Homo sapiens: one gene and its partners. The protein of the gene in region 1 interacts with the protein of each later gene in a pairwise test. Each region holds a gene or a part of one and is shown on either strand. Other genes may lie near its edges. The genes, in order: GSTK1, CCNDBP1 and FAM9B.

What was found.
Region 2: the proteins of GSTK1 (region 1) and CCNDBP1 interact in binary tests that used the Homo sapiens proteins (3 or more experiments, as listed by UniProt).
Region 3: the proteins of GSTK1 (region 1) and FAM9B interact in binary tests that used the Homo sapiens proteins (3 or more experiments, as listed by UniProt).

The regions. Positions count from the first base shown.
Region 1 is NC_000007.14:143,261,027-143,264,775, forward strand, and holds the start of GSTK1 (glutathione S-transferase kappa 1), read left to right. Parts: upstream 1-2,414; 5' UTR 2,415-2,487; coding exon 2,488-2,559; intron 2,560-3,059; coding exon 3,060-3,141; intron 3,142-3,521; coding exon 3,522-3,650; intron 3,651-3,749. UniProt on the Homo sapiens protein: Glutathione S-transferase that catalyzes the conjugation of glutathione to exogenous and endogenous compounds. Significant glutathione conjugating activity is found only with the model substrate, 1-chloro-2,4-dinitrobenzene (CDNB).
Region 2 is NC_000015.10:43,188,254-43,192,002, forward strand, and holds part of CCNDBP1 (cyclin-D1-binding protein 1), read left to right. Parts: intron 1-940; exon of another isoform or gene 941-945; coding exon 946-1,027; intron 1,028-1,801; coding exon 1,802-1,898; intron 1,899-2,071; coding exon 2,072-2,145; intron 2,146-2,712; coding exon 2,713-2,789; intron 2,790-3,141; coding exon 3,142-3,422; intron 3,423-3,749. UniProt on the Homo sapiens protein: May negatively regulate cell cycle progression. May act at least in part via inhibition of the cyclin-D1/CDK4 complex, thereby preventing phosphorylation of RB1 and blocking E2F-dependent transcription.
Region 3 is NC_000023.11:9,032,263-9,036,011, reverse strand, and holds the start of FAM9B (protein FAM9B), read left to right. Parts: upstream 1-1,884; 5' UTR 1,885-2,160; intron 2,161-2,728; exon of another isoform or gene 2,729-2,890; coding exon of another isoform or gene 2,891-3,025; coding exon 3,026-3,053; intron 3,054-3,550; coding exon 3,551-3,671; intron 3,672-3,749. UniProt on the Homo sapiens protein: May play a role in meiosis.

The DNA of each region.
Region 1 (3,749 bases):
CCTGTAGTCCCTGCTACTCAGGAGGCCAAGGTGGGAGAATTGCTTGAGCTTGGGGGGCAGAGGTTGCAGTGAGCCAAAATTGAACCACTGCACTTCAGTCTGAGCGAGAGTGAGATCATGTCTCAAAAAAAACAAGGTGGGCTGTGGTGGCTCACATTTGTAATCCCAGCACTTTGGAAGGCCAAAATGGGTGGATCACCTGAGGTCAGGAGTTCAAGACCAGGCTGGCCAACATAGTGAAAGCCCATCTCTACCAAAAACACACAAAAAATTAGCTGGGCGTGGTGGTGGGCACCTGTAATCCCAGCTACTTGGGAGGCTGAGGCAGAGAGAATTGCTTGAACCCAGGAGGCAGAGGTTGCAGTGAGCTGCAATTGTGCTACTGCACTCCAGCCTGGGCAACAGAACAAGACTCCATCTCAAAAAAAAAAAAAGTTTAGTTTCAGTGGTTGTTGAACAATTAGTTTACTCTGCAAGTAGGTAATGATAACATCATTTTTCATTCCATTTTGCATGCTCTTCTCCATGTAGGGGTTTACCTCGTATCTCTGTATTCTGATAGCCTGGAGTTGTTTTCCTTATTGATACAAATGAAAAGTGGAATCTTTATATGTTTTCCAATTTATTAAATTAGTAATGTTAAAAATAATTTTAACAAAGTTAAATGGAATTATTTTAAAATTCTGTTTCTTTGCAGTAAATGTAATCCCAATATAAGACAATATGACTCACATATTTGTGAAAACGAATAGGGCCAATCGTTTCCATTATCACCAAAATTATCTATAGTGAGGCCTCTCCATCTTCTACCAGTCCCTCTTTTTTTTCACTCACTCAAAATATATGTATCGATGGTCAAATGTGTCCCAGACATTGTGCAAATCTCTGACAAAGGTAACACAAGAAAATGTGTACTCTGAGAACTTCTTATTCTGCCCCAGTTTAGGAGATTCATGCAACTGCCAAGCAACAATAATAAGAGCTAGCAGTTATTGGAGTACCTCATTCCTCACAACTCGTCATAAGGCAGGTGTTATCATTAGATATTCCCCATGTGTATGCAGGATGAGGAAATAGGTTCAGAGAGGTCAAGTGGCTCACCCAAGGGGCACAGCTAAGTGAAAGGCACTGCAGGCATCTCAAACTACCCCCTTCCCACAAGACTCCACTGCAGAGCAGGACAGTCACCCTGACACCAGCCCAATGGGTTCATCTTGCCCATTACCCAGATGGGGCTAATTTATCAAGACAAGGGAATTGCAATAGAGAAAGAGTTTAATACACATAGAGCCAGCTAAACAGGAGACCAGAGTTTTATTATTACTCAAATTAGCCTCCCAAAATTCGGAGGCAGAGGCTAGGGGACTTTGTGGGTTTTTTTGTTTTTGTTTTTGTTTTTCTTTTGAGAGGGAGTCTTGCTATGTCACCCAGGCTGGAGTGCAGTGGCATGATCTCGGCTCACTGCAACCTCTGCCTCCCGGATTCAAGCAATTCTCCTGACTCAGCCCCCCGAGTAACTGGGATTACAGGCACATGCCACCATGCCCGGCTAATTTTTGCATTTTTAGTAGAGACAGGGTTTCACCATGTGGGCCAGAGTGGTCTTGAACTCCTGACCTCAAGTGATCCACCCACCTCAGCCTCCCAAAGTGCTGGGATTACAGGCGTGAGCCACCATGCCCGCCGGCTAGAGTTTTTTAATGATAGTTTGATGGGCAAGGGGCTAGAGAATGGGTGCTGCTAATTGGTTGGGGATGCAATCACAGGGGTGTGGAAAACCGTCCTCAGTGCACCGAGTTGCATTTGGATGCGGGCCACAGAGGAGTCACTGGTCCAGGTGGAGTCATCCTGTCATTAGAAATGGAAAAGTCTGAGAAGGTATCTTCAAAGGCCAGTCTTAGGTTCTACAAAAGTGGTTATTTACAGGAATAATTGGGGAAGTTGCAGAGCTTGTGACCTCTGGAACAATGTCTGGTAATTGTTAATGCCTACATCTTAGCAGAATTCAGGCCCCTCTCATAATCCTAAACTTGTGGACTTTTATTAGTTTTATAAAACTGGTTTAGTTTGGGGAAGGGCTATTATCATTTAAACTATAAACTAAATTTCTCCCTATATTAGCTCGTCCCATGCTCAGGAATGACCAAGGGCAGTTTGGAGGTTAAAGGCACGATGGAGTTGGTGAGTTCAGATCTGTTTCACCTTCGTAATTTTCTCACTGTTAAAATTTTTGCAAAGGCGATTGCAGCGCCCCTTGTCCACACCTGCGCGCTCCCCAAGGGGTCCCTACCCACCCCGCCCCTGGCTGGGGGCCGTAGGCTGGCCCTGCCCCGCTGCGCCGGAGGTGGACCTCTACCAGGGCAGTTTCTCTCTGAGGCTGCGCGCTAAGGCGGTGGGCGGTCCCAGGCAGGCCCAGAAGCTGGGCAGCCTCTGCCGGGTTCCGGGAAAAGGAGCTCCTGCTGCCACTGCTCTTCCGGAGCCTGCAGCATGGGGCCCCTGCCGCGCACCGTGGAGCTCTTCTATGACGTGCTGTCCCCCTACTCCTGGCTGGGCTTCGAGGTGACGCTGGGAGGGGTCGCCTCGGCAGTGTCTGGGGAGTGAGGGCGGAGGGAAGAGTGAGCGCAGGGCTCCGGGACAGAGGTCTCGTGTAACTCCTGGCGCCGCCCAAGGGGTTAAGGCAAGCAGGGAGAGCTCCGGGGCTGAAGGTCACTTTGTGCTTTTAAACGGAATAGAGTCGCTGGCTCCAACCCGAGCCTTTATATCCCGACTGCAGTTTCCCACGGTGGTGGAAAGAGGGGCGGCTCCAAACATTCAGGGAGAAATGCAGAACACGGCCACCTCTTAGCCCAACGATGGCAGTTTTGGGGAAAACTGGCCACAGGAGCGAAGATCCTGGAATAGATTTCTAGTAGTGAGGAGAGTTTTGCCAATTTCAAACCAAACAATGTAGGGTGTCCGCATAACCCCTGCTCTGCACTTAGCGCCTCCCTTCCCTTTCCCTCGGCTCTTTCACTTTTCCATCTTGCACACTGGCAATCGTTCTTGACCTCTGCCCGCAGATCCTGTGCCGGTATCAGAATATCTGGAACATCAACCTGCAGTTGCGGCCCAGCCTCATAACAGGGATCATGAAAGACAGTGGTAGGAAGGGAGGGTCGGGGCAGGGGTGATCTCAGTGGCCCAAGAGAGCCGACCCCAGCGGGTCCTTATATTGGCACTGGCAGCCAGAAAGCTGCCCTCTGCCCCGTCTCTACTAAAAATACAAAATTAGCCGGGCGTGGTAGTGCATGCCTGTATACCACAGCTACTCGGGAGGCTGAGGCGGGAGAATCGCTTGAACCCAGGAGGCGGAGGTTGCGGTGAGCTGAGATCGCACCATTGCACTCCAGCCTGGGCAACAAGAGCGAAACAACAAGAGAAAAAAAAGGAAGCTGCCCTCTGCCCAAAACCCACGTCGAGGTCCCCAAACCTGGGACCCTTAGGTCTTTTCTCACTTAGCGTGCCCAACCTTCTCCTGGCAGGAAACAAGCCTCCAGGTCTGCTTCCCCGCAAAGGACTATACATGGCAAATGACTTAAAGCTCCTGAGACACCATCTCCAGATTCCCATCCACTTCCCCAAGGATTTCTTGTCTGTGATGCTTGAAAAAGGTGAAGAGAGTGGGATGTAGACAGGGTATCCAGTGAAAAACACAGAAGTCGGAGATTGAGGGATTGATAGGATGGAGGGGCTGCGGGAGACTAAAGCAA
Region 2 (3,749 bases), on another chromosome or scaffold:
GAAGGAAAATAGTTAACATGGAGCATTGTCGAGTCCATGCTAGTTACCTTTAGTTACATATTCTGATTCTGTTAAAAAAAGAGAGAGACCTGGTTAATGGTTTAATAACCATGGTCTGTCAGTTGGTCTGTCTGTCTCTCTCCCTCCCTCTCTTTTCTGTAAAGGGCCAGTTAGTAAATATTTTAGATTTTGTAACCAACTACCCAACTCTGCCCTTATAGAGCAAACACAACTACAGACATTAAAACCAGTGAGTATGGCTGTGTCCCAATACACTTCATTTCCAAAAACAGGCAGTGGGGCCTGACTTGGCCTGAGGACCACAGTTTGCCAGCTCCTGGTCTAAGATATCATGAATATCTTGGGATACAGAGTATCAGGAATAAGTTTTTTCCTGCTGTTTCTTAATGGTTTATTGAGTTGTCAGCCCAATATCTACTATATAGCTAACTCCTCCCTGGTATGTGATGAGTATAGTAGGCCTGCCTTCATACCAGGACTTCAGAAAATGTTTGATGATGCTGTAGAAATATCTGCCCTAGGCCGGGTGCAGTGGCTTACACCTGTAATCTCAGCACTTTGGGAGGCCAAGGGAGGTGGATCACCTGAGGTCAGGAGTTCGAGACCAGTGTGGCCAGTGTGGCAAAACCCCATCTCTACTAAAAATACAAAAAATTAGCTGGGTGTGGTGGCGGGTGCCTGTAATCCCAGCTACTTGGGAGGCTGAGGCAGGAGAACTGCTTGAACCTGGGAGGTGGAGGTTGCAGTGAGCCAAGATTGCGCCATTGCACTCCAGCCTGGGTGACAGAGTGAGACTCTGTCTCAAAAAAAAAAAAAAAAAAAAAAAAAAAGAAAAAGAAAGAAAAGAAAAAGAAAAGAAATATCTGCTCTATTCCACAGCAGAAGGGTTGACCACTTTGATCTAATCTGTTTCCTTTTTCATAGGAAACCCAGAAGTTCTGTGAACAAGTCCATGCTGCCATCAAGGCATTTATTGCAGTGTACTATTTGCTTCCAAAGGATCAGGGTAAGCCACATAAGTGTTGCATTTATCGTGTAGATCTTTGCTAATATTGTGGATTATGTCTTGTGACTTTTACCTTTACCCAACTTGAACATGTAACTTTCTCCCATAAAATACAGTGAAGGATAATTTTGTAATGTAAGTGACTTATATAAACAAGCCATTATTCTAAGATACAGATGCTTTGTTCCTATGACTTCCCATCTCCCCTGCCTTGCCTGACTCATAAGGCTTTTAATTCTCACAGCCTTCTCCCTCTTCAACCCGTTTTAACACCACAGATACTGGCTGGCTCTCAGCCCCATATGCAGGCTCAGGCCATCCTTACTTTCCTCCACCCATGTTATATCTCACCCTATTTCTGAACATCTGCATAGGTTAAATGGCCTCCAGCCCTGCCTGTAGAATCATGCATTGATTATAATCATGCCAAAATTATAACTGAATACATGTCATGGATCTTCAGGGTTACTCAAGTGGCTTAAACTTCAAGTGTTTCATCTACAGTTGTTAAGAGATCACGGTCCTTAATGAATGAATACATGGTGTCACGGAAAGATTTTGTTCCAAATCTCTTTTGAAGAAAACACTAAGGAATGGCAGGAGGGGCAAGAAAATGCCATGGGGATATAAGTAAGACCTGAGTTTTGTGTTAGCATGTAGGTTAAAGCATGTGGGTGTACATTACCTTATAGTTCTGTAATGCTTAGACTCAGGAAAGCAGATGGTGCTTCTGAAAAGAACACCAGGTTGCTTATTCTTTGGGTTTGGCCACAGGGATCACCCTGAGAAAGCTGGTACGGGGCGCCACCCTGGACATCGTGGATGGCATGGCTCAGCTCATGGAAGTACTTTCCGTCACTCCAACTCAGAGGTAGTGATGCCACAGTTTAGGTTACCAGTTATTGGGGTTCCTTGCCTCAGAGGGGAAAAGCTCATTTTAACAGCAAAGTTACTGACAGCTGAGAGTAATGACCAGCAGGAAGAAGCTTTTTAGGAGACAGGAACCTAGGTTATTAATATATCCTTACTGATTTCTTTCCCCAGCCCTGAGAACAATGACCTTATTTCCTACAACAGTGTCTGGGTTGCGTGCCAGCAGATGCCTCAGATACCAAGAGGTGAGTGAAAGTGGGCAGTGGGCCATGTCTGCTGGCCAAAGCAAAGAGACCTCATGTCTAGCTTCCAGCTTTGTAACATGTATTTGAATTTATATAAACAGTCTAGTGAAATATATATATTTTATTAATGAAATTAATAGGTAGGTATTAATACTTTTTGTCATTCTCTAGTTATCATACTTCTAAATTCCACTCCCCCTTGCTGTGGCTGTCTCTTGTTGAACAAGTATGGTTTGTTTTCCTAGTCCTACCCCAAGAGTAGTATTATGGAGCACACTGAAGCAGTTATGAGGTAGAGACAGCTAGGCCAAAACAGTGGTTGTCCAAGAGGACCATGATGATAAACATCATGTGACCATTTTATTTCTTCTTGTGAATAAAATACAAGCTTTTTAAACCCCTATCTAGATACCAGGGGATGTAGTGAGAATTTTTTATTAAACCCGCACCCTTGTCAACCGTCCTTGGCACTCCCATCAATAGGAACAATGTGATTGTTCCTTGCAGTCATAAGAAAATTGTTGGATTTCTCCTCTAATTCTAGTGCTTCTGATTTTTCACTCATAGATAACAAAGCTGCAGCTCTTTTGATGCTGACCAAGAATGTGGATTTTGTGAAGGATGCACATGAAGAAATGGAGCAGGTGAGGGGACCTCCATCATTGGAAGGCAACTCCTTGACTAGTAGATGAGAATTAATTATAAAGAGAGATTTCCTGAGCATTGACCAGATAGGTCCCATTCTCACTACTGTCCTCTGTCTTCCATCTCCCACTGCTTGTTAGTGTTTGATTTAGTACCACTCCTCTGTGTTCCCTTACTGGACAAGGAGAGCGAGAACAGGGTTTATGAAGTGATTCAACTCTGTAGCCCTTAGTGAAGTGGCTGGCTAAGATTTTTGGACAACTAAGACATCGTGGTAAAAGTATAATAATAGGCCTCGCCTTTTTTTTTTTTTTTTTTTTTTGCATTCACATACATCATGGTATGTCTTAGGCTGTGGAAGAATGTGACCCTTACTCTGGCCTCTTGAATGATACTGAGGAGAACAACTCTGACAACCACAATCATGAGGATGATGTGTTGGGGTTTCCCAGCAATCAGGACTTGTATTGGTCAGAGGACGATCAAGAGCTCATAATCCCATGCCTTGCGCTGGTGAGAGCATCCAAAGCCTGCCTGAAGAAAATTCGGATGTTAGTGGCAGAGAATGGGAAGAAGGATCAGGTGGCACAGCTGGATGACATTGTGGATATTTCTGATGAAATCAGCCCTAGGTAAGCGGGATCCCCACTTGAAACATCTGAGCAGCAGCGTTCTGATTTCAATTTGTGTTGTCACCTCAAGGTTTTCACAGTTTTTTTATATTTTGAAATTTTTCAAACCTATAGGAAAGTTTAAAAAGTACCTTCAGTGAACACCCCTATATCCTTCTATTAGATTTGCCTGTTGTTCACATTTTTTCCTATATTGGTTTATTTCTCAAGAGATACTGTTTCATATTTATTCCAGAATGTTTTGAGAGTAAATTGCAGACAGCAATGACATTTCACCCCTAAATACTTCAGTATGTATCTCCTGAAGTACTCTTATTCCTACTCTTA
Region 3 (3,749 bases), on another chromosome or scaffold:
CTCCCCTCTCCCCCCACCCCACAACAGTCCGCGGAGTGTGATGTTCCCCTTCCTGTGTCCATGTGTTCTCATTGTTCAATTCCCAGCTATGAGTGAGAACATGCGGTGTTTGGTTTTTTGTCCTTGCGATAGTTTGCTGAGAATGAAGTCTTTCTAATTTTTTAATCTTTTGGGAAACTGTAGGTAGAATAGAAGATAGTAGTGGCCAAGGAAGTACTATAGGATGTGGTGAGGGTTCATTGGTTGAAAGTGAAAGAAAATGCTCACTCTACTGCCAAGAGAGCAATTTAAGATACTATGCCTGTATCCAAGACAATACATTTGTATTTGGTCTCTCCTGGACAGACGGAGCTTAAACTCTCATATCACTGTTCATTTTCATTGATTGTTTTGCTTTTATTTTCTACGGTTTTGGGTTTAGGCACATTGATGCTGTGTTAAGCACAAAATGATTCATGTGAGATTGTCAGAGTAGATTGTGCCCTTCTCTTGTTCAGTGTACTCTGCCTTTAGTTTATTCATTTATTTTTTGCATTATTTTACATTCATGAGATATCAATTCTCAGATCCATATTTTCCTTTTCTTCATATTTTTCTGATATGTACTTTTTGTATCATTTTGTTTAATTCCATTCTTACATACAGCATATACTTAGGTTTTTATTTTGATCCAAGTTGGAAGTCATTTCCTTTAGAATGCGAGTTTATCTCATTCATATTTCTTGCTCAACAGATTCACTTGGCCTTAATTCTGTTCTTTTATGTTATGTTATGGTCTCTGTAGTATTTTCTTTATTTTCCAACTTTTACTACAGGATTTGTATGCTTTGTGTGTGCTCTTTTTGGTTATATAGGCATTTAAGGCTGTGGATTAGTTTTCCTGATGACTGCCTTTATAATTTCAATAGTATAATGAAACTCTGTATCTTGATTTACAAACTTTAGGCAATATTTATTCACTCCCAACTCCGAAACAACTCTCTCCCTATTACAGGGGATCGGAGGTGGGAAAAAGCTGAGTTAACGATAAGTATTAAGGCATTAATTTGTGGGTGAAGGTTGTGGCATATGTCTGGATAAGTCTGGAGTATGAAGGTTTGTGGGCAAGTCTGGGGCATGAGGATGAGAAAGAAAAGTAGTGAGGAAACAAAAAAGGTTATGGGCTGGGCACGGTGGCTCACGCCTGTAATCCCAGCACTTTGGGAGGCCAAGGCATGCGGATCAACTGAGGTCAGGAGTTCGAGACCAGCCTGGACAACATGGTGAAACCCTGTCTCTACCGAATATGCAATAATAATAATAACAACAACAACAACAACAACAACAACAACAACAACAACAACAGGGCGTGGTGTTGGGCTCCTGTAATCCCAGCTCCTCGGGAGGCTGAGGCAGGAGAATCGCTGGAACCTGGGAAGGGGAGATTGCAGTGAGCTGAGATCTTGCCACTGCACTCCAGCCTGGGCAATAGAGTGAGACTCAGTCTCAAAAACCAACAAACACAAACGATAAAAGCACAATCCATTGATTAAAAAGGACGCAGCTGGGCATGTTGGAAGCACACAGGGCATGGGAGGGAGCCTGGGCTCCACCCACAGGGTGATGGCCATTCTAGCCAAAGGGGCAGGGGTGGCTGGAACAAGCCCCAGGGCGAGGTTCTAGGCCCTGTCCACTTGGCCTCCATCCCAAGTCCTTGTGTCTCTCCCCAGGAGGAGAAGCTGAAAGATTGTGGGGACAGAGGCCCCAAAGGGCCACCCCCACCCCAGTCCACAGCAACCACGGGCTGTCACTTAGGGGAAGGGTGAGGGCGTGCCAGCAGGGGGCCTGGCCCCACACAGCCCGTCACACGCATGTGCACTGAGCCGACCAATCAGCGAGGAGCGCAGGAAGTCCTGCCTGCAGCTCTCACGAGAACTGAGGACCCGTTTTCTTTACTTTTCTTTTTTTTTGTTTTTTTGTTTTGTTTTTTTTGGGACGGAGTCTGGCTCTTGCTGCCTAGGCTGCAGTGCAGTGGTGTGATCTGGGCTCACTGCAACCTCCGCCTCCTGGGTTCAAGCAATTCTCCTGCCTCAGCTTCCTGAGAGGACCCGTTTTCTAAGAGGTCCTAGTGGTGCCGCTGCCTGCAGGTTCTTTGAGGGCGCCACATCAGGGGTCCCTCAGGTGAAGCACTCGTGGTGGGGAGGCGGGAACGCAGGCACGAGGCCCTCTGGGAACCAGGGTGTGAAGCGCTGGGCAGCCCGCCGACCTGTGAGGAAATGGCCCCAGCGTCGTCGCCTGGGGCCTGGGTCAGGGCGAGGCCCTGAGGGTGGGCTAGGGTGGGCTGGGGTGGGCCAGGGCAGGGAGGGAGCTGGAGCTGCCTGGGTGATCCCTAGGGCCCGGGAGGGTCCTGGGGGCTTGTGCATGTGTTGGGGGGAGGGGCCGAGGGGGGGAGAAGTGGGAGTGAGGCGGGGGTGTTGTGGGGGACAGTCTGAGTGGGGCCCTCCTGCCTGGCCGCCCGACAGGACAGGACACTTGGGGTCACCGGGGGTCACCGGGGGTCCCCTGTGCGTCCAGGGGGGCGAGTGGCAGTGCAGCCCCTGACATTCCCCTAGAGGTGGCTGGGGAGATCCTGTGTCACCCAGCGGCCCTCCCAGCCACATGGGGTCGCTAGGTGACTCAGAGGTAGGGCTGAGTTCTGTCCCAAAAGGGCGGCGAGGATCCCGCAGAGGCCGTGGAGTTCAGGTGTGAGGGGCAGCTGTGAGCTTTGCAGCCAGCCCCGGGGACGGGCTGGACGGGCCAGGACAGGAGGGGACACTGGCATCTTTTCCGTCCCTTCCTGCTCCCACATGAGACCCAGGGCGGGCCAGCCCCACCCTTCTTGAACCTGTGATCCCAATGGCTTTCCTTTCCGATGCCAGGTTTCCTTAGCTTCCTTAGTGTGTCTTTGCGCTCACCAGGTTCGGGGATCGCCTCTAGCTTCCCAGGACAACCAGCCACGGATCCTGTGGGCAGGAGGGCTGCCAAGGCCCAGTTGGAGGCTCAATTTATGGCGGCCTGGGGGAAGAAGCATGCAGGTAAATACAGCCCAAGGGGACCCAGAAGAAGGTGCACGCCCAAGAGGACGGTCTGTCTGCTTTCTGCGCTGGGGGCACAGGGGCAGCCCGAGGCCCCAGGCCCCTTCGTGGCTCTGGAGTCCATTGTGCACGTGCTAAGATGCGCCAGGTTTTCAAAGCAGGCTCAAGGGCCTTAGGCTTCCCCGTGGAAGGCTCCCCCTCATAGCAGGGTTACAGATGCTCTCAGAGCAGCTCTTCTCCATGGGTGCAGTCCTGACATCCAAGGGGTCTGAACTGTAGTACGTTGTTTACTGGAACCTGAACCCGAAGGGCTTCCAAAAGTCCCTCGATAAAATGGTCAGGAACCGGTGATTCCATGTATAGCTCTGCTTTAAAGCTTTAATTGGCAGAGAGCCCCCCCCCCCCAAAAAAGTCTACAACTAGTACATTTCTCCACAAAAAATGTCCACAGCAGCATCTTCCTCTAAAAAAGGTTTGTCTTTTACATTTTAATGCAGGAAAGGATCCAGTCCGTGATGAATGTGAGGAAAGAAACCGTTTTACAGAAACAAGGGAGGAAGATGTAACTGATGAGCATGGGGAAAGAGAACCTTTTGCTGAAACAGATGAACACACGGGGTAAAGTGTTTAAGTCACTTTTGCCTGTCGGATAGGGTCTTTTAGGAAAAGTCAGCTTTGGACCATGTCATCACTGTT